Regions from separate parts of the Homo sapiens genome. Here all the other regions are linked to region 3. The links come from fine-mapping of genetic effects on gene expression. A gene starts in region 3. Each other region holds a variant in brackets. All regions are shown on one strand. Distances are between the middles of the regions.

Region 1 (10,672 bases), 22 kb after region 3:
CTGTAATCCCAACTAGTTGGGAGGCTGAGGCAGGAGAATCGCTTGAACCCAGGAGGTGGAGGTTGCCGTGAGCCAAGATCGTGCCACTGCACTCCAGCCTGGGCGACAGAGCGAGACTCTGTCTCAAAAACAAACAATCAAAAAGAAACAAACCAGCTTGGCCCTTTCTTGCTGTGTGGTCTTGAGGAAGCAGCTTCCCCTCTCTGAGCCCCAGTTTCTCTCTGTGGAAAGTGGAGATAATATCTTACAGGAGTGTTATAAGCCTCCATGGCAAGGTATGAGTTGTGCCCGGTCCCGGTGGGGGCCCAATAAGAGGGATCTCCTCTTAATATGATTCCATTTCCTCTGGGGGTACATCCTTCAATATAAGGTAACTCTCAGTGGGCAAATCTGATTCACTCTGCGGAAGTTAACTCAGCAGCCTCCTGGGAGAAAATACGGCAGCTCTGCAAGATGTGGTTTGAGGGGGTGGTGTTGTAAGCCCAGCAGGAGTGGAAGTGATCACAGTCCACTGGGGGAACTGGAGATGGCTGATAGGCTTGGGGATAGCAGAGTTGAATGGATGGAATTTCAGCAAGAAAGAAGGGCAAGGTCATGAATGCGTCTTTTTTTTTTTTTTTTTTTTTTGAGACAGTGTCTCGCTCTGTCGCCCAGGCTGGAGTGCAGTGGTGTGATCTCAGCTCACTGCAACCCCCGGGTTCAAGCGATTGTCCTGCCTCAGCCTCCCGAGAAGCTGGGACTACAGGCACCTGCCACTATGCCTGGCTAATGTTTGTATTTTTAGTAGAGATGGGGTTTCACCATGTTGGCCAGGATGGTCTCGACCTTCTGACCTCGTGATCTGCCTGCCTCGGCCTCCCAAAGTGCTGGGATTACAGGTGTGAGCCACCACCCCTGGCCCATGAATCCTTCCTAAGAGTCTAGCATAGGCAGGCCCAGTGCTGGGCAGTTGGTGTACTCTTTTGCCCTTCATCTCCCTTCCCTGCCTGCAAGGATTATCACCCCATTTTGCAGATGAAGAGACTGAGGCTCAGAGAGAGGAAAAATGGCTTGCCCAGGGTCATCCAGCTAGTAGCAGGGGTCAGGCTTTTCATGTGAGTCTGTATAATTCTCAAGCCCATTGCAAGGGGCATGTTTGGAGAGAGGTCAGAGGCTCGCAGGGTTGGTATGTATCATTGGCATGAAGGGAGTGTTGGAGACAAGGCCAGTGAGGCAGGTAGGGCCAAACCACCCAGGACCTCAAATGCCAGGCAGAGGGGCTAAGGCTGTCCTTGAGAGGCAGCAGAGGACCAGGGTCCGTTATGTGGATAAAAAAGACTCTCTGGCCAAGCGTGAAGGCTCATGCCTATTATCACAGCACCTTGGAAGACTAAGGAAGGAGGTTCGCTTGAGCCCAGGAGTTTGAGACCAGCCTGGGCAGCATAGTGAGACCCCATGTCTATAAAAAATTAGCTGGGTATGGTACTGTGCGCCTGTAGTCCCAGCTACTCGGGAGGCTGAGGCAGGAGGATCGCTTGAGCCTGGGAGGTCTCAAAGCTGAAGTGAGCTGTGATGGCGCCACTGCACTCCAGACTGGGTGACAGACGAAGACCCTGTCTCAAAAAACAAAAACAGACTCTCTGGGAGTGGGTGGGGGCAGAGTGGAGAGGAGAGAAGAGACTGCAGTGATGGTGTTTGGGGGTGCCGAAGCTTGAGCTATAGCTGGGGCCAGGAGGACAGTCGGGGAGGCTCAGCAGAGAGTCAGGAGGCTGGACGTGGGACATGAAGCTTGGGGGCTGATGGCCTGTGAGATGGGAGGAGCAGGAAGGGACAAGGACAGTACCTGCGGGTCTGCCTTATTGATTGGGTGGACAGAGGGGCCATTCCTGAGATGAGGACGTAGGGAAGATGGGTTTGAGGGCTAGATGCTGAGTTGAGTATGGAACACGGTGAGTCTGAAGGGACAAGGTGGGGCCAGGGTCGAGTGCCCAGGTGACAAATGGTGCCAGATTAAGGCGGAATATAAAGCAAGGTATTATTATTATTATTATTTTTATTTTTTTATTTTTTTTGAGATGGAGTCTTGCTCTGTCGTCCAGGCTGGAGTGCAGTGGCACGATCTTGGCTCACTACAAGCTCCACCTCCCAGGTTCATGCCATCCTCCTGCCTCAGCCTCCTGAGTAGCTGGCACTACAGGCGCCCGCCACCATGCCCGGCTAATTTTTTGTATATTTAGTAGAGATGGGGTTTCACTGTGTTAACCAGGGTGGTCTCGATCTCTTGACCTCATGATCCACCCATCTCGGCCTCCCAAAGTGCTGGGATTACAGGTGTGAGCCACTGTGCCCGGCCTATTATTATTATTTTTGCAACAGAGTTTCGCTCTGTTGCCCAGGCTGGAGTGCAATGGCGTGATCTTGGCTCACTGCAACCTCCACCTCCCGGGTTCAAGCGATTTTCCTGCCTCAGCCTCCCAAGTAGCTGGGATTACAGGCATGAGCCACCACGCCCAGCTAATTTTGTATTTTTAGCAGAGACGAGGTTTCTCCATGTTGGTCAGGCTGGTCTCGAACTCCTGACCTCAGGTGATTCGCCCACCTCGGCCTCCCAAGGTGTTGGGATTACAGGCATGAGCCACAGCATCCAGCCTATTATTATTATTTGAGACGGAGTCTCCCTTTCTCACCCAGGCTGGAATGCAGTGACGTGATCTCGGCTCACTGCAACCTCCACCTCCCGGGTTCAAGCGATTCTCCTGCTCAGCCTCCCAAGTAGCTGGGACTACAGACGCATGCCACCATGCCCAGCTAATTTTTTGTATTTTAGTAGAGATGGGGTTTCACCGTGTTACCCAGGCTGGTCTCGAACTCCTGAGCTCAGGCGATCCGCCCATCTTGGCCTCCCAAAGTGCTGGGATTACAGGCGTGAGCCACGGCGCCCGGCCTGTAAAGCAAGATATTATGAACAATTTTGTTTCCTTCTTTTGAAACTGTGGGGAAAGTAGGAGAGCTTCATAGAATCGTAGAAAGTCGTGGAAAAGTCCGCTCTGAATGGACGTCTGGGTTTTGAAAGAGCACAGAAAGCCATGAGGTCCTAGACATGTTACTGCCTTTCTGGGCCTCTGTTTCCTCAAGCACAGCCTTGGAGGTTACACTGGCCAAGCTGTAGTGTCGCCACAGCGTGGAACTTCTTCCCACAGTTACTGTAATTGATTACAGTGCTATGAAGGGGGTGCCACTATTTCCCATTTAATAGATGAGGAAACTGAGGCTCCCAAGGTTCAATGGCTTGCCTGAAGTCACTCAGTTGGTACTGGTGGACCGGGGACTGGAACCCACGTCTGCCTGCCCCAGAGCCTATTGCTCACCTCCACTACATGAGATTATCTCTTTCTGTGGTACCAGTTTTTGGAGCAACCAAAATGAGATGAATTTGTTTTGGAGATAGATATGGAGCAAGTGGAGGCAGAAGGAAACCTAACTCCATGTCACGACAAATGCCCTTCAGGACTTTTCATGCCCCTGTTGACTGCACATGTTTGGATCCACTACATAGCTGGATCAAATTTTTAAGGGTTTCTGGTTCTCTCTTGCTGTTTCAGTGACCTCCAGGGTCTCTCGGAGTCCCTCTCCTGTTCTCATTTTCTGCTGTTGTCACCTCTTTCCCTTCACAATATACCCCAAGTTTCAGAAATCAGAGTGACTCACGTTTGTCATCATCTGCTGTGTGTGTGTGTGTGTGTGTGTGTGTGTGTGTGTGTGTGTGTGTGTGTTGCACCCGGGCCTTTGCTTCTGCTGTGCCTGCTGCTTTGAACGCCCTTTTCGCACCTTAGGGGCATACCTCCCAGTCCTGGTGGTCTTTCAAAGTGCTACCTCAACACCCATTCTCTGGGAGCTCTCTTGGGCCACTCTATACCTCTGTGACCATATCCTCCTCTGGGCCCTAATCATATTATATGCCTATAGATGCCTCCTTAGACACCCCTCCACCCTGCCTTCCATTATGGCCTGTCCAGCCTTCCCTTTAATCGCCCATCCATCTCTGATTGTCCGTCTGCCCCATCTTGTTTCCTCTCTCCCCATCCATCCGTCTGTCCATCTATCCATCTATCCACCCTGTACATCCATCTATCCATCCATCCGTTCATTCATCCATCTCTTTATCCTTTCATCCATCCATTTATCCATCCCATCCATCCATCCTTCTATCTGTCCATCCATCCATCCTAATCATATTATATGCCTACCTCTGAGGGCACCAAGCACCCTGAGGGTAGTTATGTGTTGGGGGGACATATTTCCCCCAATAGAACCAGCTTCTTCAGGGTAGGAACTGTATCTGATTTCTCTCTCCATCCCTCCCACTGCTTGGTCCATAACATACCTCAATAAATATTAAATGAATAAGTGATTCCTTTTGTTTCTTCTTGGGGGCTGTAAACCAGTGGTCTGTGCTCTGGCCCTGAGCCAAATGACCTTATGCCTATGATAGCCTGACTGCTTTAAGACCCCCACACTCTGCCCAGTAGCAACCCCTTTATGCAGAGTTTAAAAGTCAGACATGCAAAATAGAGGCAAAATAGACATTCAGCAGATGTCCCTCCTCCCCTGACTTCTTGTCCCC[T/A]CTCCCTCTAATCCTTCCAGCCTGTGGGAGCTCGGAGGCCTCAGCCTACCTGGATGAGCTGCGTTTGGCTGTGGCTTGGAACCGCGTGGACATTGCCCAGAGTGAACTCTTTCGGGGGGACATCCAATGGCGGGTGAGGGGTCAGGGCCTGGGGGTTGGGCATACTGACAAAGGGACTGTGCTGTCCTCCCTCTCTGCCTTCTTTTTTTTTTTTTTTTTTTTTGACGGAGTCTCACTCTGTCACCCAGCCTGGAGTGCAGAGGTGTGATCCCAGCTCACTGCAAGCTCCGCCACCTGGGTTCACGCCATTCTCCTGCCTCAGCCTCCCGAGTAGCTGGGACTACAGGCGCCCGCCACCACACCCAGCTAATTTTTTTGTATTTTTAGTAGAGACGGGGTTTCACTATGTTAGCCAGGATGGTCTCGATCTCCTGACCTTGTGATCCGCCCGCCTCAGGCTCCCAAAGTGCTGGGGTTACAGGCATGAGCCACCGCACCCGGCCTCTCTGCCTTCTTAGACGCCCCTCAACCCTGCCTTCCATTATGGCCTGTCCAGCCTTCCCTTAATTGTCCATCCATCTCTGTCCATCTGCCCCATCTTGTTTCCTCTCTCCCCACCCATCCATCTGTCTATCCATCCATCCACCCTGTACCTCCATCTATCCATTCATCCATTCATTCATCCATCTACTTATCCATCCATCCATCCATTTGTCCATCCATCCATTTATCCATCCATCCATCCATCCATCCATCCATCCATCTGTCCATCCATCCATCCATCCATCCATCCATCCATCTGTCCATTCATCCATCCATCCATTCATCTGTCCATCCATCCATCTACCTATCCATTCATCCATACATCCATCCATCTACCTATCCATTCATCCATCCATCCATCCATCTATCCATCCATCCATCTGTCCATCCATTCATCTGTCCATCCATCCATCTACCTATCCGTTCATCCATCCATCCCTCTGTCCATCCATCCATCCCTCTGTCCATCCATCCATCCCTCTGTCCATCCATCCATCCATCCATCCATCCATCCATCCATCTGCCCATCCATCCATCTGTCCATCCATCCATCTACCTATCCATTCATCCATCCATCCACCCATCCATCCATCCATCCATCCATCCATCCATCCATCCATCCATCCATCCGTCCCTCATACCCTTGCCCATCTCTTGTCCTTAACCTTTGAGCTAATCTCTTCCCCTATTCATCCCACCCTGCCAGTCCTTCCATCTCGAAGCTTCCCTCATGGACGCCCTGCTGAATGACCGGCCTGAGTTCGTGCGCTTGCTCATTTCCCACGGCCTCAGCCTGGGCCACTTCCTGACCCCGATGCGCCTGGCCCAACTCTACAGCGCGGCGCCCTCCAACTCGCTCATCCGCAACCTTTTGGACCAGGCGTCCCACAGCGCAGGCACCAAAGCCCCAGCCCTAAAAGGGGGAGCTGCGGAGCTCCGGCCCCCTGACGTGGGGCATGTGCTGAGGATGCTGCTGGGGAAGATGTGCGCGCCGAGGTACCCCTCCGGGGGCGCCTGGGACCCTCACCCAGGCCAGGGCTTCGGGGAGAGCGTAAGGACCGGGCAAAGCTGGGGGGCCCCCCCGCGCGGGAAGGACCTGGGGGCGGGATTACATCAGGGATGGGGCGTGGCCAAACCAGAGGCAGGGCTGGTGGTGGCCAGTGTTGGGGAGGGGCTGGTCCTCACCACCCCTCCTTTTGCTGGCAGATGTATCTGCTCTCGGACAAGGCCACCTCGCCGCTCTCGCTGGATGCTGGCCTCGGGCAGGCCCCCTGGAGCGACCTGCTTCTTTGGGCACTGTTGCTGAACAGGGCACAGATGGCCATGTACTTCTGGGAGATGGTGAGTGCTGACTTGGCGCTCCTGCATCCCTGTCCTTTAGGCCACTGGATGCCAGTGTTCCCGAAACAATTACCATACAATTCCCCGACCCCTGACGTCACCTGACAGGCGCCCCATCCTCCGTCGCTGATATATGCCTCCAACTGCTTCCTCTTTCTTTTCTCTCTCTCACATCATGCATTATTTTATGTGTTTATTTTTTGAGACAGAGTCTCGCTCTGTCGCCCAGGCTGCAGTGCAGTGGCGCAATCTTGGCTTACTGCACCCTCAGTCTCCCGGGTTCAAGTAATTCTCCTGCCTCAGCCTCCGGAGTAGCTGGGATTACAGGCACCTGCCCCCACGCCTGGCTAATTTTTGTTTTGTTTTGTTTTGTTTTAGTAGAGATGGGGTTTCACCATGTTGGCCAGGCTGGACTCCTGACCTCAAGTGATCCACCCGCCTCGGCTTCCCAAAATGCTGGGATTACAGGCATGTGCCACCGTGCCTGGCCAAGATTCTCTCTTTGTTTTGGCCTTTGATAATATATCTCAGTGTGGATCTCTGTGAATTTCTTTTTCTTTTTCTTTTTTTTTTTTTTTTGAGATGGAGTCCTGCTCTGTTGCCCAGGCTGGAGTGCAGTGGCATGATCTCGGCTCACTGCAAGCTCCACCTTCTGGGTTCATGCCATTCTCCTGCCTCAGCCTCCCGAGTAGCTGGGACTACAGGCGCCCGCCACCACGCCCAGCTAATTTTTTGTATTTTTAGTAGAGATGGGGTTTCACCGTGGTCTTGATCTCCTGACCTTGTGATCTGTCTGCCTTGGCCTCCCGAAGTGCTGGGATTACAGGCGTGAGCCACTGTGCTTGGCCTGTGAATTTCTTTTACTTGGAGTTCCTTGAGCTTCCTGGATGTGTAGACTTTTGTCTTTCATCACATTTTGGAAGTTTTTAGGACATTATATCTTCAAATATTATTTCTTTCCCTTTCTGTCTCTCTTTTCCTTTTGGACTCTCATTATGTATGTATTAATATTCTGTATGGTGTCTCGCAAGTCCCTTAGGCTCTGCTTATTTTCCTTCATTTGTTTTTCTTTTTTCTCCTCAGGCTGGATAATCTCAATGTACTTAGCTTCAAATTCACTGATCTTTATTTTGCCTTTTTTATGAATCTACTGTTGAGTCCCTCTAGTGGTTTTTATATTTCAGTTATTGTGCTTTTTAGCTTCAGAGTTTCTATTTGGTTCATTTCTGTCTCTGTAGTCTTTTTTTTTTTTTTTTTTTTTTTTTTGAGACAGAGTCTCGCTCAGTCGCCCAGGCTGGAGTGCAGTGGCTCAATCTCCGCTCACTGCAAGCTCTGCCTCCTGGGTTCACGCCATTCTCCTGCCTCCACGCCATTCTCCTGCCTCAGCCTCCCAAGTAGCTGGGACTACAGGTGCCCGCCACCACGCCCAGCTAATTTTTTTGTATTTTTTTAGAGACAGGGTTTCACTGTGTTAGCCAGGATGGTTGCGATCTCCTGACCTCGTGATCTGCCCTCCTCGGCCTCCCAAAGTGCTGGGATTACAGGCGTGAGCCACTGCGCCCGGCCTCTGTAGTCTGTCTTTTTTTTTTCCTGGTCCCACTACAAAACTTTATTTTTGATTACAGTACCATTCTCAATCTCTTCTACAAAAAGCAGAAAAAAAAGCAGCCACTTCACTCAAGACCTATATACAGATAAGATGTTTTCTGTGTTTTTTTCTTTTTTTTTTAATTTTTATTTTTAAAAAAATAAATTCAGTGTTCACATTTCTATAAAGAATTAACCCAGTTTCAGGAAACCCTGCCTCTATCTCTGTATTCTTATTCTCTAGGTGGTGAGACATCTTTTTCCTGGCTCCCTTTAGTTCTTTTTTCATGATTTCCTTTAGCTCTTCGAGCATATTTAAGACAATTTATTTAAAGCCTTTGCTAGTAAGTTCAGTGTCTGAGTTTCCTCAGGGATAGTTTCTATTCATTTATTTTTTTCCTACTCATTTCTATTCATTTCATTTCTTTTCTTTTATTTATTTATTTGTTGTTCTTGTTGTTGTTGTTGAGACAGAGTCTCATTCTGTCACTCAGACTGGACTGCAGTGGTTTGACCAAAGTTCACTGCAACCTTGACTTCTTGGACTCAAGCAATCCTCCCACCTCAGCCTCCTGAGTAGTTGGGTCTACCAGCCACATGCCAAGCTAATTTTAAAAAATTTGCAGAGATGGGGTCTTACTATGTTGCCCAGGTTGGTCTTGAATTCTTGGGCTCAAGCAATCCTCCTGCCTGGGCCTCCCAAAGTGCTGGGATTACAGGTGTGAGCCACCATGCCTGGTCTCTATTAATTTCTTTTTTTTCCAGTATATGAACCATATTGTCTTGTTTCTTTGCATGCCTCATAATTTTTGGTTGAAAAGTGGAACATTTTGAATATGATAATGTGGCAACTCTGGAAATCAGCTTATGCCCTCCCTCCAGGGTTTGTTGTGGCTGCTGCTCATTGTGGGTCATTGTTGTTTGTTTAGTGACTTTTCTTTTTTCTTTTTCTTTTTTTTGGGGGGAGGGGGGATGGAGTCTCACTCTGTGGCCCAGGCTAGAGTACAGTGGTGCAATCTCGGCTCACTGCAAGCTCCACCTCCCAGGTTTAAGTGATTCTCCTGCCTCAGCCTCCCAAGTAGCTGGGATTACAGGTGTGTGCCACCACACCCAGCTAATTTTTGTATTTTTCATAGAGACGGGGTTTCACCATGTTAGCCAGGCTGGTCTCAAACTCCTGACCTCAGGTGATCCACCCACCTTGGCCTCCCAAAGTGTTAGGATTACAGGCGTGAGCCACCGCGCCCACCCTGTTTAGTGACTTCTCTAAACCTTTTTTGGAAAGTCTGTATTCTTTGCATGTGTGGCCATGGAAGCCCCTCTTCTGTTAGCTTAGTGGTCTGCTGGTGACTTGACAGAGATATCCTTAAATGCCTAGAACCACAGAAGCAAATATAACAAGAAACTCCCTATAAGTGCTGGGATTAGAGGCATGAGCGACGCCCACCGTGGCTGTATATTGAAGCAGTCTTTCAATACTTAGCCAAGCTGTTTACAGTTCTGCTTTAGTCTTCACTTCCTGCTTGTGCAGAGCCTAAAGTTCAGCCAGATGTAAGAGCTTCAGGTTTTCTCTGGTATTTTCTGAGCACGCCTCTAGCCCTAGTCATGCATCTAGCCGTCTGGATTTCCTGGTACACAAGGAAGACTTTCAAAGCCCTTATTCCCTCCAAGTATTTCCTTTCATGGCCTCTTTCTTCCCAAGATGCTTAGTGTATCTATTACTGCCTCTACTGTGAGTCCTTGCCTCAGATGGATGTGGTTAATTCATTTGCCTTTAAAAGATTTTAACAGGCCGGGTGCAGTGGCTCACACCTGTAATCCCAGCACTTTGGGAGGCCGAGGCAGGTGGATCGCCTGAGGTCAGGAGTTCGAGACCAGCCTGACCAACATGGAGAAACCCTATCTCTACTAAAAGCACAAAAAATTAGCCTGGCATGGTGGCGCATATCTGTAATTCCAGCTACTCGGGAGGCTGAGGCAGGAGAATTGCTTGAACCTCGGAGGCAGAGGTTGTGGTGGGCTGAGATTGCAGCATTGCACTCCAGCCTGGGCAACAAGAGTGAAACTCCGTCTCAAAAAAAAAAAAAAAGATTTTAACACACACTGCCTGGAAAGCCACTTTTTCTCTGGGGAAAGCTCTAAGGCAGGTGAAGCAAAGTCAAGTCCTTGAGCTGTTGCTTCAGGGAGCCACCAGATAGGGCCACACACACAACCACAATTCTGGAGGGTAAGTCTGAATTGCTCCCTCTAGTACTAGCGACCCACACCAGGAATGTGTGTCTTTGTCTTCAAGGTTGCCACTGAACTGGGGAGCTGGGGGTAGTAAGTGGGTAGGTTAAAATGTCACAGTACCCTCTTACTGAAATTTAGTGGTCTCTTCATTAAGCATTTTCTTGTTTTTTTTTTTTTATAAGTTTTCGATTAGATTCCAGAATTCTAGAAAAGTTGATTCTGACAACTTTTGATAGCTATTGATTGCTTTTGTGGAGGGATAAAGTTTTGAAGTTCCCTACACTGGCATTTTTGGTCACCTCTCCAAGGGCTTTTAAAAATTTCATTGTTAGAGACAGGGTCTTCCTCAGTCATCCAGGCTGGAGT
Region 2 (5,196 bases), 40 kb after region 3:
TGGGCTTTCACGCTGCTGTGCGAGGAACTGCGCCAGGGCCTGAGCGGAGGCGGGGGCAGCCTCGCCAGCGGGGGCCCCGGGCCTGGCCATGCCTCACTGAGCCAGCGCCTGCGCCTCTACCTCGCCGACAGCTGGAACCAGTGCGACCTAGTGGCTCTCACCTGCTTCCTCCTGGGCGTGGGCTGCCGGTGAGTGCCCCGGGGCCTTGGAACCCTGGCCCCTGGCCACCTCTCATCCTTCCTGCCCACTCCCGGGGTCTCCACTCCCGGCTTCCCCGCAGCTGGGCAGCAGGTCAAGCCAACCCTGCTGATTGAGAACCCCTCTTAGGAAAGTCGGGCATGACGATTGCCCCAGGGTAATTGGCTGGCACCTGGAGATCTGGCTTCAGGGACGGCAGGATTCAGGAGAAAACCCCACTGTCCGCCACTCAGCCTCTGCTGCTATTTATTGCTAGGCCTGAAGTTTAACAGATATTTATGGGAGCGCCCCGACCTGGGTGCCAACCTCACCTCCTCCCTTCTCTTCCTCCACATAGCTCGTTGGTCCCAGGCCCCTTGCCCTCCTGCCCCCGACTTTTTCTTTCTTTCCTTTTTTTTTCTTTCTTTCTTTCTCTTTCTTTCTTTTTCTTTCTTTCTTTCTTTCTTTCTTTCTTTCTTTCTTTCTTTCTTTCTTTCTTTCTCTCTCTTTCTTTTCTTTCTTTCTCTTTTCTTTTCCTTTCTTTTCTTTTTCTTTTTCTCTTTTCTTTCTCTCTCTCTCCCTCTGTCCTCTGCCCCTCTGCCTCCCTCCCTCCTTCCTTCCTTCCTTCCTTCCTTCCTTCCTTCCTTCCTTCTATGCTTCCTTCCATCCCTCCAAGCTAAGGGTTTAACCCTTGCCCTGCCTGCATTATGGAGTATCCTGCATTAGGATACTCCTCCTTTTGAGGAGAGCAAACAGAAAAGTTTGTGGATACAACCTGGTGACTGGTTTTTTGTTTGTTTGTTTGTTTTTGTTTTCTTTCTTTTCTTTTTTTTTTTTGAGCCAGAGTTCCGCTGTGTCGCCCAGACTGGAGTGCAGTGGTACGATCTTGGCTCACTGCAACCTCCACCTCCTGGGTTCAAGCGATTCTCTTGCCTCAGCCTCGTGAGTAGCTGGGATTACAGGCATGCACCACTACACCTAGCTAAATTTTTTTTGTATTTTTTTTGTAGAGATGGGGCTTTGCCATATTGACCAGGCTGGTCTTGAACTCTTGGCCTCAAGTGATCCACTGGCCTTAGCCTCTGAAAGTGCTGAGATTACAGATGTGGGTCACCGTGCCTGGCCAACAACCTGGTGACTGTTTACAAGGGACCTGACACATCCTGAATGGTTGACAGTGATGACAGTGATGATCCCTACTCAAGCTTTTCCCAGTAGACACGCTGAGAGGCAGGCTTCCTCTAAGCTATGTTAGCAGTGTTACAAAGTGATTCAACATAAATAATTTATTCAAGCAGGGAGCAAGATATGAGAGTTTTGCAGAACACTAATACTTCTGTTTGTAATTTGTTGTATTTTGTATAAAGTGACTTTTGAGATGAAAGGGCTAAGGCCATATGCTACCATGCTCTAGGATTGCCAGTGATATTTTGGACAGTTTATCAAGCCTACCACTTTCCAGGTGAAAAATGGAAAGATCTCAGCTTAAAAGGGAGAAACGGGCCTGGCGTGGTGGCTCATGCCTGTAATCCCAGCACTTTGGGAGGCCGAGGCGGGTGGATCACCTGAGATCAGGAGTTTGAGACCAGCCTGCCCAACATGGTGAAACCCCATCTCTACTAAAAATACAAAAAATTAGCCGGGCATGGTGGCAGGCGCCTGTAATCCCAGCTACTCGGGAGGCTGAGGCAGGATAATTGCCTGAACCTGGGAGGCGGAGGTTGCAGTGAGCCAAGATCATGCCACTGCACTCTAGCCTGGGTGAAAAGAGCAAAACTCTGTCAAAAAAAAAAAAAAAAAAAAAAGGGAGAAATGTCTAATCATCTCCGGAATTGAATGGATGAATCATCCTTTGTTTC[G/A]CCAGTTCCCTCTAGATGGACATTTAGGTTCTCTCTTTCTTTCTTTTTTTGTTTTAAATAGAGACAGGGTCTCACTCTGTTGCCCAGGCTGGTCTCAAACTCCAGGGCTCAAGCAATCCTCCCACCTTGGCCTCTCAAAGTGCTGGGATTACAGGCGTGAGCTACTATGCTCAGCCTTCTGTTTTTTTATTATTCCAAAATAATAAAAGTTTACATCCCAGATGTAAAGTTTATGGGTCAAAGGGTACATTTATTTTTGACATGGATAGATTTCCTTCTAAGTAGCTTCACTCATTTCCACACCTGCCATCAGGGTAAGAGAGTGCCCCCTTGAGGCCATGCTCGACAATGCCTGATACTTTCACTCTAAAATGTAGCTCTCAATTTAACTGAAAAAAAATTTGCCAATTTAATGGGTAAACATGACCTCTCCTTGTTATAATTTATGCACTCTTGACTACCAGATAGGTTGGACATCTTTTCCTAAGCTTAATGGCCATATGTCCTTGTGCCCCCTTGTTTTTTTTTTGGTTTTTGTTTTTGTTTTTGTTTTTGAGACGGAGTCTCGCTCTGTAGCCCAGGCTGGAGTGCAGTGGCGCGATCTCGGCTCACTGCAACCTCCGCCTCCCGGGTTCACGCCATTCTCCTGCCTCAGCCTACTGAGTAGCTGGGACTACAGGTGCCTGCCTCCACGCCCGGCTAATTTTTTGTATTTTGTAGTAGAGACGGGGTTTCACCGTGTTAGCCAAGATGTTCTCGATCTCCTGACCCCGTGATCCGCCCGCCTCGGCCTCCCAAAGTGCTAGGATTACAGGCGTGAGCCACTGCGACCGGCCACCCTCCCGTTTTTTTAATTGGGGTTCATTGATTTGTATATGTATAAATGTATATACTCCTTATACTCTGGATCCTAATCCTCGGTAGTTTTGTTGGTCTTAATATCTTCATATCTTCTCGAAGTCTGTGGCTTGTCTTTTCACTTTCACTTTTGTATGTTTCTTTTCTTTTCTTTTTTTTGAGCCTGCCTCGGCCTCCCAAAGTGCTGGGATTACAGGCGTGAGCCACCGCGTCTGTCCATACACTAGGTTTTTAATCCATCCAAAGTTTAAGTACATGAGGATGCAAAATAGGGGTAGAATTTTTATTTTCCCCATAGGAATTATTGATGTTTACTGGCCGTTTGAACGTCCTCTGTGAATTGTACGTGGTATCCTTTATCTGGCTTCCTTCCTTTTGCGTATTAGTTTGTAAGGACTCTATATGTTTTGCCTTTTATAGGTTGGACAGATATTCCGGCAGTTTTTCCAGCTTGATTCTTACAGGGACCAGCTCTTTGCTAAGGCCATCGTTCATTCAGTCATTACTTAATAGGCGCAGCCATTTTAAAAATGGGTGCCAGGGCCCTGCATGGACCAGCTTGGTACTGAATAAATTTGAGTAAACCCCGGGTGACTGGGAGGGTCCTGGTCCTGCCCGGTGGAGGCTGCAGCTTCCTCTGAAGGATGGCATTGGGAAGACTTCCATTTTCCTTGGCGTCTTGTGACACTTGACCCTTGTGGCATCTCCCCACACCCCAGGCTGACCCCGGGTTTGTACCACCTGGGCCGCACTGTCCTCTGCATCGACTTCATGGTTTTCACGGTGCGGCTGCTTCACATCTTCACGGTCAACAAACAGCTGGGGCCCAAGATCGTCATCGTGAGCAAGATGGTGAGGCAGGGGCGGGGCCAAAGTGGGCGGGGACATAGGGAAAGGGGTGGGGCCAGGGAGGGAGTGGTCCGTGGAGAAGGGGCGTGACTTTGGGGAGCAATGGGGCGTGTTTTTGGGATATAGGGGTGGGGCCAGAGTAGGAAAGGGCGGGGCCAGACTCAGCCACATCTCCCCACAGATGAAGGACGTGTTCTTCTTCCTCTTCTTCCTCGGCGTGTGGCTGGTAGCCTATGGCGTGGCCACGGAGGGGCTCCTGAGGCCACGGGACAGTGACTTCCCAAGTATCCTGCGCCGCGTCTTCTACCGTCCCTACCTGCAGATCTTCGGGCAGATTCCCCAGGAGGACATGGACGGTAGGGGGGATGACGGCCTGACAGCCTTCCTCTGAGTCTCTGTCCCCGCTCCCTGGGTCTCTGTCCTCCTGGCTCTAAGAAAATATCTGTCTCTCTGAGTCTCTGTCTCCCTCTTTCTCTGGATCTCTGAGTGATACCCTATATTCCCCATCATCATCTCTCTGGGTCTCTGCCTACCCCACCCCCTCTGTCTTTCTGTCTGTCTTTCTTTTTTCTTTTTTTTTTTCTTTTTTTTTGAGATGGATGTTAGAAATGTTTATTTTGTGGTGTCGTAAAGAAATAGTACTTGAACATAAATTTAATTTTTTTAGTAAAGCCATTTTTATTTTTTGTAGAAAGGGTACACTCGCCAGCAGTTTTGTCATGAGAGTACACGGAACAAAGGAGATAGGGTCATTTATAACCTGACGCGTCTATTTTACTGCTGTGTCTGGTTTTTATTGGCTGGAACCGGACTTTACATTTTGTATTTGTCTTGATTGGCTAGTAACTTAGAAGTTTTTAAAAGAAGCGAAGGCAGAGGAGAACAAAGGAAGGAGGAAGTAACTTGTGGAATGTTGAGAAAGGTAAAAACACTTTTAAATAAGGAAGAGGAACAGGCTATGATCTAATGCTTGCTTGAACCAGTATAAGTATGTCAGGGCAAATATTTAGGCTAAATTGTGAGAGCTAAGAACATAAAGTACATTGATTTATTTTTTATGGCTAGTAGATATTTAAGAATGTTAGCACAGGTGTTTGAATAAATTTTGTTTCTAAGAGAAGTTACTATTTATTGTTAATTAGATGGGGAGGAAAGTCTTTGAAGAGGAACCTGTACTTTACTTTTTACATGGAGTTTTGCTCTTGTTGCCCAGGCTGGAGTGCAATGGCACGATCTCAGCTCACTGCAACCTCCACCTCCCAGATCGAAGCGATTCTCCTATCTCAGCCTCCCGAGTAGCTGGGACTACAGGCGCGTGCCACCACGCCTGGCTAACAGTTTTGTGTTTTTAGTAGAGATGGGGTTTCATCACATTGGTCAGGCTAGTCTCAAACTCCCCACCTCAGGTGATCCGGCCATCTCAGCCTCCCAAAAGTGCTGGGATTACAGGCGT
Region 3 (10,124 bases):
GGTGTCCATGCCTGAGGATATGATGGTGATGCTCACTGGACACAACTTCATCCTCATCCTCGTCTTGATGGCTGTGGCTCCTGTGGCTGGGGAGGTGGTGCCTGTGCTCAGCTGAGTCTTCCGTGTCTTCACTCCCGTGGCCTCTGTGCCCACGGGCCTGCCCACCATGCTCTGCAAAGACCTCCTCACCTGAGACACCCTCATCTCCGACTTTGTGGTCTTGGGACCTGTGGCCTGGGAGTAGGTGCCCATATTCCTTGGAGACATCTTCATCCTCCTTTTCACGGTCTGGGTGGCTCCAGAAATGATGCCCATTCTCTGTGGAAACATCCTTGTTCTCATCTGGATGGTCTCTAGGGCTGTGGAGGTGGTGGCGAAGCTCTGCTGATGCCTCCTCGGAGAGCCCGGCGACTCCAGTGCTGTTGTTCCGGTTTCTGAAGCCTAGCCCATCCCCTCTGAGCTGCTGGGTCATGGCCGGGGGGAGGAGCAGGCTGGCCACCCCAGCCCAGAGGACAGAAGCGTGCAGCCATGGCCTATGGTGGCCCATGGGGACGGACAGGCAGCACTGGCTCCAGCTGCCTCTGCGGCAATGTGGACAAACGTTGGGGTCTTTGTCCCTTTGGGGTTGGTCTCTTTTTTTCTCTGTGTCTCTCCTTTGTCCTTTCGGTCTCTGTCCACCTTCCTCTGGTCCTTGCTGCCTGGCTCTGGACACCCCTCTGAGGCTGTCTCCGGAGCCCCCTGACCCCCCTCTGGGGCCCTCCCTCCCCATTCCCCAGCCAATAGGGTCCTTCCCCTCCCCTCTCTCCAGCTAAATTTACTCTCAGCCCTGAGTTATTCTGGGTCAGTCCCCGCCTGCCTGCCTCCTGCTCCTCCTCCTCCCAGCTGGGGAGGGGACCAGTGAGGGGTCTCTCCCTGGCCAGGAGACGGTGGCCAAGGGACTTGACTTTGAACTACCAACAAGCTCACGTTTGGCAGCTGCAAAGACAAAGGCTAGACTTTTAGCAGGTTTTTGGGGGAGCCTGGGGCACCTGGGGGAGGCAGAAGAGACTTATCAGAGGGGAGAGACTCCTGGGACGGAAGGACTGGGGGTTCGATTGCGGGGTGTTTCCAGCTGGAATGATACGTGCTGGTGAGAGAGTGATGTCAGTATTGAGGCCCTAGAATGGGGGGAAAGGAACATGGCCCCCAACACACGTGCCCATGACCTCCTGTCCCTGGAACTCAGATCTGGGGGCAGGGACTGGGCTAGGCCAGGGCTATAAATACAGCTGGGAGGGGTAGGGGGACTCAGGTTACGGAGGCCACAGCTGTCCCCATCACAGAGGGCTGGCAGGAGACAAGTGGCCTTGCCCGTCTCTGTGTGTCAGTATTTCCTACTCCTCACCCTTCATGACTGCCCCCACTAGGGTCTCCTTTCCTGTTCACGGGTCCTCCTCTCTCTTCAATTCTGTCATCTGCTCTCTCAGGGTCCCTGTCCCTCCTCCATGGGATTGCCTCTCCCTCTCACTCTGGGCTTCTGTCCCACTCTTATCTTAGTGTCAGTCCTCCCCCAAGTCTGTGTCCCTCTCTCTCCCCTAAATCTCTGGCCCCTCCTTTCTGAGTTCCTGCCCTTCCCCCAATTCTTTGGTTTTTGCATCCCCCTCTGCCCCTTGCCTCAGTCAAGGTGTCTCCTCCCCATCTCTGGCATCCACCTCTCTGGGTCTCTGTCCCCACTCTCTCTCAGAGTCTCTGTCCCCCTCTGTCTCAGAGTCTCTGTCCACCTCTCCCTGGGTCTCTGTCCCCCTCTCTCTGGGTCTCTGTCCCCCTCTCCCTGGGTCTCTGTCCCCCTCTCTCTGTGGATCTCTGTCCCCCTCTCTCTGGGTCTCTGTTCCCCTCTCTCTGTGGGTCTCTGTCCCCCTCTCTCTGTGGATCTCTGTCCCCCTCTCTCTGGGTCTCTGTTCCCCTCTCTCTGTGGGTCTCTGTCCCCCTCTCTCTCTGGGTCTCTGTTCCCCTCTCTCTGGGTCTCTGTCCCCCTCTCTCAGGGTCTCTGTCCCCCTCTGTCTCAGAGTCTCTGTCCCCCTCTCTCTGGGTCTCTGTCCCCTCTCCCTGGGTCTCTGTACCCCTCTCCGTGGGTCTCTGTCCCCTCTCCCTGGGTCTCTGTCCCCCCATCCCTGGGTCTCTGTCCCCCCCTCTCTGGGTCTCTGTCCCCCTCTCTCTGGGTCTCTGTCCTCCTCTCTCTCTGGGTCTCTGTTCCCCTCTCTCTGGGTCTCTGTCCCCCTCTCTCTGGGTCTCTGTCCCCGTCTCTCTGGGTCTCTGTCCCCCTCTCTCTGGGTCTCTGTCCTCCTCTCTCTCTGGGTCTCTGTTCCCCTCTCTCTGGGTCTCTGTCCCCCTCTCTCTGGGTCTCTGTCCCCGTCTCTCTGGGTCTCTGTCCCCCTCTCTCTGGGTCTCTGTCCCCCTCTCTCTGGGTCTCTGTCCCCTCTCCCTGGGTCTCTGTCCCCCTCTCCGTGGGTCTCTGTCCCCTCTCCCTGGGTCTCTGTCCCCCCCTCCCTGGGTCTCTGTCCCCCCCTCTCTGGGTCTCTGTCCCCCCCTCTCTGGGTCTCTGTCCTCCTCTCCCTGGGTCTCTGTCCCCCTCTCTCTGTGGGTCTCTGTCCCACTCTCTCTGGGTCTCTGTCCCACTCTCTCTGGGTCTCTGTCCCCTCTCCCTGGGTCTCTGTCCCCCTCTCTCTGTGGGTCTCTGTCCCCCTCTCTCTCTGTCTATCCCTGGGTCCCTGCTGCCCCACCTTCTGATTCTCTGTCCCCTAAGTCTTTGTCTCCCCCTCTTTGGGTTAAATTGTCCCCTCCCTGTCTGGCATCCTCCTTTCTGAGTCTGTTCCCTCTCCGCCACTGGCCCCCAACTCCTTCTGTTCCCATCTCGCGCTTGCCCTTGGAGTCTCCCCTGTGTGTCTCTCTCCCCCCGGCCCGGACCTCTGCACCCCCCAGGTCGCTGTCCCTCTGTCCCCTTATCGCGGCCTGGGACCCGCCCTCTCCCCGCCTCCCGCTTTGGCGTCTCCAAGACTCCCCGCCCCCCAGACCTCGCCCCGCCCCAGGCTAGGCTGGAAAGTGGAGGATCCGGTTTGCTCTGGGCGGGTCTGGAAGCAGAGCCGGCGGAGGGAGCGCCGGGGCCCTGGGCTGCAGGAGGTTGCGGCGGCCGCGGCAGCATGGTGGTGCCGGAGAAGGAGCAGGTGAGCGCCGGACCAGGGTCTGCGGGAGCGCGGAGCTGGGGACCTCGCCTCCAGGCTCCCAGAGAGGAGGGCGCTGGACACCCAGATTCCTGGGTCAGACGGAGGAGGGGGATGGGAGGGTCCAGGTTCCAGGGTCCAGGGCATGGGGGTCGAGACTCCTGAGTCTGGAGCGGGAGGGCGCTGGGGGCCCGGACTCCTGTGTCCGTGGGGAGCGCACGGGGTGGGTGGCTCTGTGTCCCATAGGACAGAACTGGGTGCCCTCTCACCCCACTTCCACCCCTACATTTGTTCCTGTCCCCAGAGCTGGATCCCCAAGATCTTCAAGAAGAAGACCTGCACGACGTTCATAGTTGACTCCACAGATCCGGGGTGAGGAGTTCGCCCCTGGACTGACCCCAGAGGGTCCGCGGCCCGCTGACCCCGCCCGCGGATGGTCACGCCCCAGCCCTGCTCCTTCCCCATTCCTGGACTCGGGGACCTTCCCAAGGGCGTTCCTTGCCGACGCTCTCCCTCTAGGAGCGTTTGGGTCTGTGTAGACACCCCTCATTCCCCATTCGCCATTCTCCCGCTCAGGGTCAGTGTAGACGCTCCAGGGCTCGGTTCTGCTTCTTTCCTCCCCGATGTCTCTTCTATGTGCTTCTGTCTCTTCGTGTCACTTTCTGTGTCTCTGTCTTTCCCTTTTGGGTATTTCTGTTTCATTCATTCATTCATTCATTCATTCATTCATTCATCCATCCATGCAAGAAACCCTCACTCAGCGCTCCCAAGGTCCCTTTAGCCTAATTCAACGGCCCTGCCAGGGTTCCAATTTCCCCTGGGACACGTGCTGTGTGGCTTCGGGCAAATCATTTCACCTCTCTGGGTCCCGTTTCTCATCTGGGCATCAAAAGAGGCTTGATCTCCTGGGGTTATTATGAGAATTAAACAAGTTAATGCTTGTGATATTCCTGGCACAGCGCCCAGCACAGGACGCTGGGAAATATCTGCAGCTCCCACTGGGAGGTGGCAATTATTACCGCGGGCGGGCCCTGTCTTGGTGGCCGGGGACACCAATTGAGCTAGATAGGGTGTGTGCGTCCGCGAGGAGCTCCCGCCCTTCAGTGACGGCCTCTCAAGCGGATCCAGGCTTTCTAGTTTTTTTTTTTTTTTTTTTTTTTTTGAGACGGTGTCTCGCTCTGTCCCCCAGGCTGGAGTGCAGTGGCGCGATCTCGGCTCACTGCAAGCTCCGCCTCCCGGGTTCACGCCGTTTTCCTGCCTCAGCCTCCCGAGTAGCTGGGACTACAGGCGCCCGCCACCACGCCCGGCTAATTTTTTGTATTTTAGTAGAGACGGGGTTTCACCGTGTTGGCCAGGATGATCTCGATCTCCTGACCTTGTGATCCGCCCGCCTCAGCCCCTCAAAGTACTGGGATTACAGGCGTGAGCCATCGCGCTGGGCCAATTTTTTGTATTTTTTTTTTAGTAGAGACGGGGTTGCACCGTGTTAGCCAGATGGTCTCGATCTCCTGACCTCATGATCCGCCGGCCTCGGCCTCCCAAAGCGCTAGGATTACAGGTGTGAGCCACCGCACCTGGCCCAGGCTTTCTAGTTTTTTGTTTTTTGTTTTTTTGAGACAGAGTCTGGCTCTGTCGCCCAGGCTGGAGTGCAGTGTTGCGATATCAGCTCACTGCAACATCCACCTCCTGGGTTCAAGCAGTTCTCATGCCTCAGCCTCCCTAGTAGCTGGGATTACAGGTGCCTACCACCATGCCCAGCTAATTTTTTGTATTTTAGTAGAGACGGGATTTCACCCTGTTGCCCAGGTTGGTCTTGAACTCTTGATCTCAGGCAATGCACCTGCCTTGGCTTTCCAAAGTACTGGGATTACAGGTGTGAGCCACCGCGCCCAGCCCTCTAGTTGTTTTTCAAGACAGTTTTTGGGGTGCGGGAAGTATCCACATTCCTACTTCAGTGTGTATTTTGTTATGACTATATATTAGTGCAGTATGGCTTGTAAATGATGGATAAATAAACAGATATGCGCTTGTTGGACGTGAGTGCTCAAAACCTTTTTACTGATAGGTCAGTGTGGTCAAGACAATTTAGGAAACTCTGGTCTGGCCTGAGGAGGAAGAAACGCAGAAGATAATTATAGTAAGGCAAGGGGTTGCAGCTCCCAAAGACGAGCCACTGGGCTCTGTGAGAGCTGGGAGGAGGTGTTTGCTTAAGACTGGGAGGGGACACAAAATGTCACTAATGGTTTCTGGAGGGAGGAAGAGTGGCTAGTGAGGTGACATTTGAAAGTGAGCTGGAGAGAGGCCCATGGAAAGCGATTTGGGGCCGGGCATTGTGGCTCACGCCTGTCATCCCAACAATCTGGGAGGCCGAGGCGGGTGGATCACCTAAGTCAGGAGTTCGAGACCAGCTTGGCTAACATGGTGCAACCCTATCTCTACTAAAAATACAAAAATTAACTGGGCGTATTGGCGCATGCCTGTAATCCCAGCTACTCAGGAGGCAGGAGAATCACTTAAACCTGGGAGACGGAGGCTACTATGAGCAGAGATCACGTCACTGCACTCCAGCCTGGGTGACAGAGCAAGACTCCATCTCAAAAAAAAAAAAAAAAAGAAAGAAAGAAAGAAAAAAGTGATTTGAACAGCATGTGCAAAGTCCTTGCTAAGGACCATATGGTTTGGCTTGAATATGAATCAAAGTTCAGGGTGCAGGGAGCACTGTCATGAGAGAAGAGGCTGCAGAGGAGGGCAGGGCCAGAGCTTGCAGGGTGTCAGAGGCCACCCTAAGGGGCTGGGATCTTGTCCTTGGGAGCTGGGGCATCACCGCAGCAGTGGGGTTGGCTCTGGGTGTGGAAAAACTTTCTGGGGCTGGGAGAGGATGAACAGGAGCTCGGGAGGAGGCTGTAGAGAGCGTCTGAGCGGGAGGGGTAGTGGCCTGAGCCAGGTCAGGGCTTTCGGGACACAGAGAGGAGGGCATGGGGCAAAGACTCAGGGGGCAGGAAGGCAGAGCTTGGGGCTTGATGAGGGTGATGAGGGAGAGAGGGGGTGCCGCCATCGGTGGATGGCTCCGGGACGTATGCTCTGCTGACTGGGACACAGTGGGGCTGTCCCTGAGATGGAGAGCTCAGGAGGGCAAGCAGGTTTGGGAAATGTCGCTGAGTGCAATGTGGGAATCTGTGCATATGAGCGGCCTAGGGGGACCGAGGGGCATGTGGGGACTGAGATTGGGAAAGGTCTGGACTAATGTCCAGAATCTGAGAGGTCCGAGTTGTAGCTGGTAATTGAAACTGGAAGTAGGTAAGACGTCACAGGGAAAACAACGTGTAAAGTCAGGGGAGTTGCAAACTGGCAATTCTATAGCCAATTGTGTGCGTGTGTTTGTGTGTGTGTGTGTTTAGAAGAGCATTTAAAAATATCTGTCTTCTGTCTCTCTCTCTTTTTTTTTTTTTTTTTTTTTTGAGACAGGGTCTTGCTCTGTTGTCCAGGCTGGAGTGGCACGATCATGGTTCACTGCAGCCTTGACCTGCTGGGCTCAAGCGATCCTCCCACATGAGCCTCCGGAGTAGCTGGGACCACAGGCATGCACCACCATGCCTGGCTAATTTTAAAATTTTTTGTAGAAACCGGGTCTCCCTTTGATACCAGACCAGGCTGGTATCCAACTCCTGGACTCAAGTGAGCCTCCCACCTCACTCTGCCTGCCAAAGTGCTGGAATTACAGGCGAGAGCCACCATACCCGGCTACCTCTTTTTTTTTTTTGAGACGGAGTCTCGCTCTATCACCCAGGCTGGAGTGCAGTAGTGCGATCTCGGCTCACTTCAACCTCTGCCTCCTGGGTTCAAGCGATTCTCCTGCCTCAGCCCCCCGAGTAGCTGGGATTACAGGCACCCACCATCACGCCTGGCTAATTTTTGTACTTTTAGTAGAGACAAGGTTTCACCATGTTGGCCAGGCTGATCTCGAACTCCTGACCTCAAGTGATCTGCCCACCTGGGCCTCCCAACGTGCTGGGATTACAGGTGTGAGCCACTGCTCCTGGCCCTGGCTACTTCTTTCTGTTGAGTTACTTGACTGGCCTCTGCACACATTGGGTTTGAGAATCATGTAGGGAAGGCTTGCACTGGGAACACCTACACTCAAGGGAGGTGAAAAGCAAGAGAAAGCCACAAACAAGTCAGGCATGAAGCAGCCGGGGCGGGGAGGAAGGCCAGAGGGGCAGGGGTATCCTGCCAAGGAGAGGGTTTCCAGAATGAGAGCCTTTCAGCTGTAGCCAGGGCCACTTGTGATACAGTCAGATGAAACCTGAATAAGGGCCGTTGTATATGGAGCCAGGCAGGAAATTGATGATTTTTATCAAGAACAATTTCAGGCCAGGCACAGTGACTCACAGCTGTAATCCCAGCAGTTTGAGAGGCCGAGGTGGGCTGATCACTTGAGGTCAGGAGTTTGAGACCAGCCTGGCCAATGTGGTAAAACCCCATCTCTACTAAAAATACAAAAACTAGCCAGGTACTGTGGCACATGCCTGTAATCCCAGCTACTCAGGATGCTGAGGCACGAGAGTCGCTTGAGCCCAGGTGGCAGAGGTTGCAGTGAGCTGAGATCGTACCACTGCATTCTAGCCTGGGAGACAGAGCGAGACTCCATCTCAAAACAAAACAAAACAAACAAACAAACAAAAAAACAATTTATTTCAGTTTCTGTGGCTCCACCGAGGAAAGAGTGTAGGAGGCAAGCTGTGCAGAAGGAATGGCTCCTAGCACTGAATGTCAGAATTTTCCACGATTTTGGAAACGTTCTATGTCTACATCCAATATGGCAGTCCTGGCCACAGGGGGCTACTGGGCACTTGGAATATGGCCATTGTACCTGAGAAACTGAATTTTTTTTTGAGGTGGAGTCTCGCTCTGTCGCCCAGGCTGGAGTGCAGTGGTGCAATCTTGGCTCACTGCAACCTCCGCCTCCCGGGTTCATGCCATTCTCCTGCCTCAGCCTCCCGAGTAGCTGGGACTACAGGCACCCGCCACCATGCCAAGCTGATTTTTGTATTTTTAGTAGAAACAGGGTTTCACCATGTTGGCCAGGCTGGTCTCAAAGTCCTGACCTCAGGTGATCCGCCCACCTTGGCCTCCCTAAGTTCTGGGATTACAGGCATGAACCACTGCACTTGACCTGAATTTTTTATTTGATTTAATTTTAACTTATTAGAACAGAAAGAGCTCCATGGCTACAAAGAACCCATGCAGCTATCACATTGGACAGTACAAGCTCCAGACTATTCCGTGAAGAGCTTTTATTTTATTATTATTATTTTTTTTTTTTTTTGAGGCAGAGTCTCATTCTGTTGCCCAGGCTGGAGTGCAGTGGCACAATCTCTGCTCATCACAACCTCCGTCTCCCAGGTTCAAGTGATTCTCCTGCCTCAGCCTCCTGAGTAGCTGGGACTACAGGCGCGTACCACCATGCCCGGCTAATTTTTGTATTTTTAGTAGAGATAAGGTTTCACTATGTTGGCCAGGCTGGTCTCGAACTCCTGACCTCATGATCCGCCCGCCTTGGCCTCCCAAAGTGCTGGGATTACAGTCATGAGCCACCATGCCCGGCCTTATTTCTTATTTTTAGTGACATGGTCTTGCTCTGTTGCCTAGCCTGAACTGCAGTGGTGTGATCATGGCTTATTGCAGCCTTGAACTCCTGAGCTCAAGTGATCCTCCTGCTACAGCCTCCTGAGTAGCTGGAACCACAGGCGTGCACCACCACACCTGGCTAATTAAAACAATTTTTTTTGTAGGGATGGGGTCTCGCTCTATTGCCCAGGCTGTTCTCAAACTCCTGGGCTCAAGCAGTCCTTCTGCCTTGACCTCCCAAAGTGCTTGGATTGTGCCCAGCCGTCCTTGAAGTTTTGCTCAGAAGAGCAAACTTTCTGGGAAGTAGCTGCAGGTGTTGGAAGTAGCTGCAGGGGAACTAGGGGATTCAAGGATGGAGCTGAAATGGGTGAACGGACAAAGTCGGTAAACTGAGGCATGCCAGGGCCCTGGAGGTAGACTCAGGAATGAAGAAGACACTTTATTGTAGTTCTCACTGTGCCAGGACCTGGCCTAAGTGTGTTTGGTTCATCCCATGTGTGGATCAGTTAGCCGTTCTTTTAGTGTCTTTACGGCTTTTGCCAAATCCTTGTAGCACCTCTGCTATCCCTTCTGTAAAATTGCTCTTAAATCTGCTCACTAGGTTTGTGTAAATACAGGTCTCCCCTGATATCTGAACTCCTGGAATCTGGAACAAAGAATTTAGATACATTTTTCTCCTTCTTTCTTCCTTTCTCTTTCTTTTCTTTTCTTTTCTCTCTCTCTTTCTTTCTTTCTCTCTTTCTCTTTCTTTCTCTCTCTTTCCCTCCCTCCCTCCCTCCCTTCCTTCCTTCCTTCCTTTCCTTCCTCCCTCTCTGTCTCTCTCCCTCCCTCCTTCCTTTCTTTCCTTAGTTTTTTTTTTTTTTTTTTTTTTTTTTTTTTTTTTGAGATGGAGTTTCGCTCTTGTCTCCCAGGCTGGAGTACAATAGTGTGATGGCTCACTGCAACTTCTGCCTCCTGGGTTCAACCAATTCTCCTGCCTCAGCCTTCTGAGTAGCTGGGATTACAGGCACCCGCCACCACGACCAGCTAATTTTTGTATTTTTTTTAGTACAGACAGTGTTTCACCATGTTGGCCAGTCTGGTCTCAAACTCTTGACCTCAGATGATCCACCCGCCTCAGCCTCCCAAAGTGCTGGGATTACAGGCATGAGCCACTGCGCCCGGCCTCTTGCTTGCTTGCTTGCTTGCTTGCTTGCTTGCTTGCTTGCTTTTCTTTCCTTCTTTTCTTTTTTTTGAACAGGGTCTCACTCTGTTGCCCAGGTTGGAGTGCAGTGGCGTGGTCACAGCTCTCTGCATCAC

The links.
Region 1: its variant is fine-mapped to the expression of TRPM4 in fibroblasts (GTEx, PIP above 0.99). The same link has a PIP of 0.9 or more in esophagus mucosa, lung, nasal epithelium, sun-exposed skin and unexposed skin.
Region 2: its variant is fine-mapped to the expression of TRPM4 in blood mononuclear cells (TOPMed, PIP above 0.99). The same link has a PIP of 0.9 or more in monocytes and whole blood.

The regions. Positions count from the first base shown.
Region 1 is chr19:49,176,726-49,187,397 of GRCh38, forward strand. TRPM4 (transient receptor potential cation channel subfamily M member 4) reads left to right here. Exons shown (of 25, transcript NM_017636.4): 10 at 4,624-4,736; 11 at 5,853-6,197; 12 at 6,353-6,487. Among named protein-coding and RNA genes, the nearest start is that of TRPM4, 24 kb to the left of the region's middle. The variant T/A (reference allele first, on the strand shown) is at 4,604.
Region 2 is chr19:49,196,687-49,201,882 of GRCh38, forward strand. It overlaps TRPM4 (transient receptor potential cation channel subfamily M member 4), which reads left to right. Exons shown (of 25, transcript NM_017636.4): 17 at 1-188; 18 at 3,614-3,746; 19 at 3,925-4,099. Among named protein-coding and RNA genes, the nearest start is that of TRPM4, 41 kb to the left of the region's middle. RefSeq lists a silencer at 73-399. The variant G/A (reference allele first, on the strand shown) is at 2,037.
Region 3 is chr19:49,154,691-49,164,814 of GRCh38, forward strand. TRPM4 (transient receptor potential cation channel subfamily M member 4) reads left to right here and starts at 3,102. Exons shown (of 25, transcript NM_017636.4): 1 at 3,102-3,200; 2 at 3,502-3,569. The coding sequence starts at 3,177. It overlaps HRC (histidine rich calcium binding protein), which reads right to left and starts at 706. Exons shown (of 6, transcript NM_002152.3): 1 at 1-706. The coding sequence starts at 547. RefSeq lists an enhancer at 2,836-3,457 and a silencer at 4,141-4,327.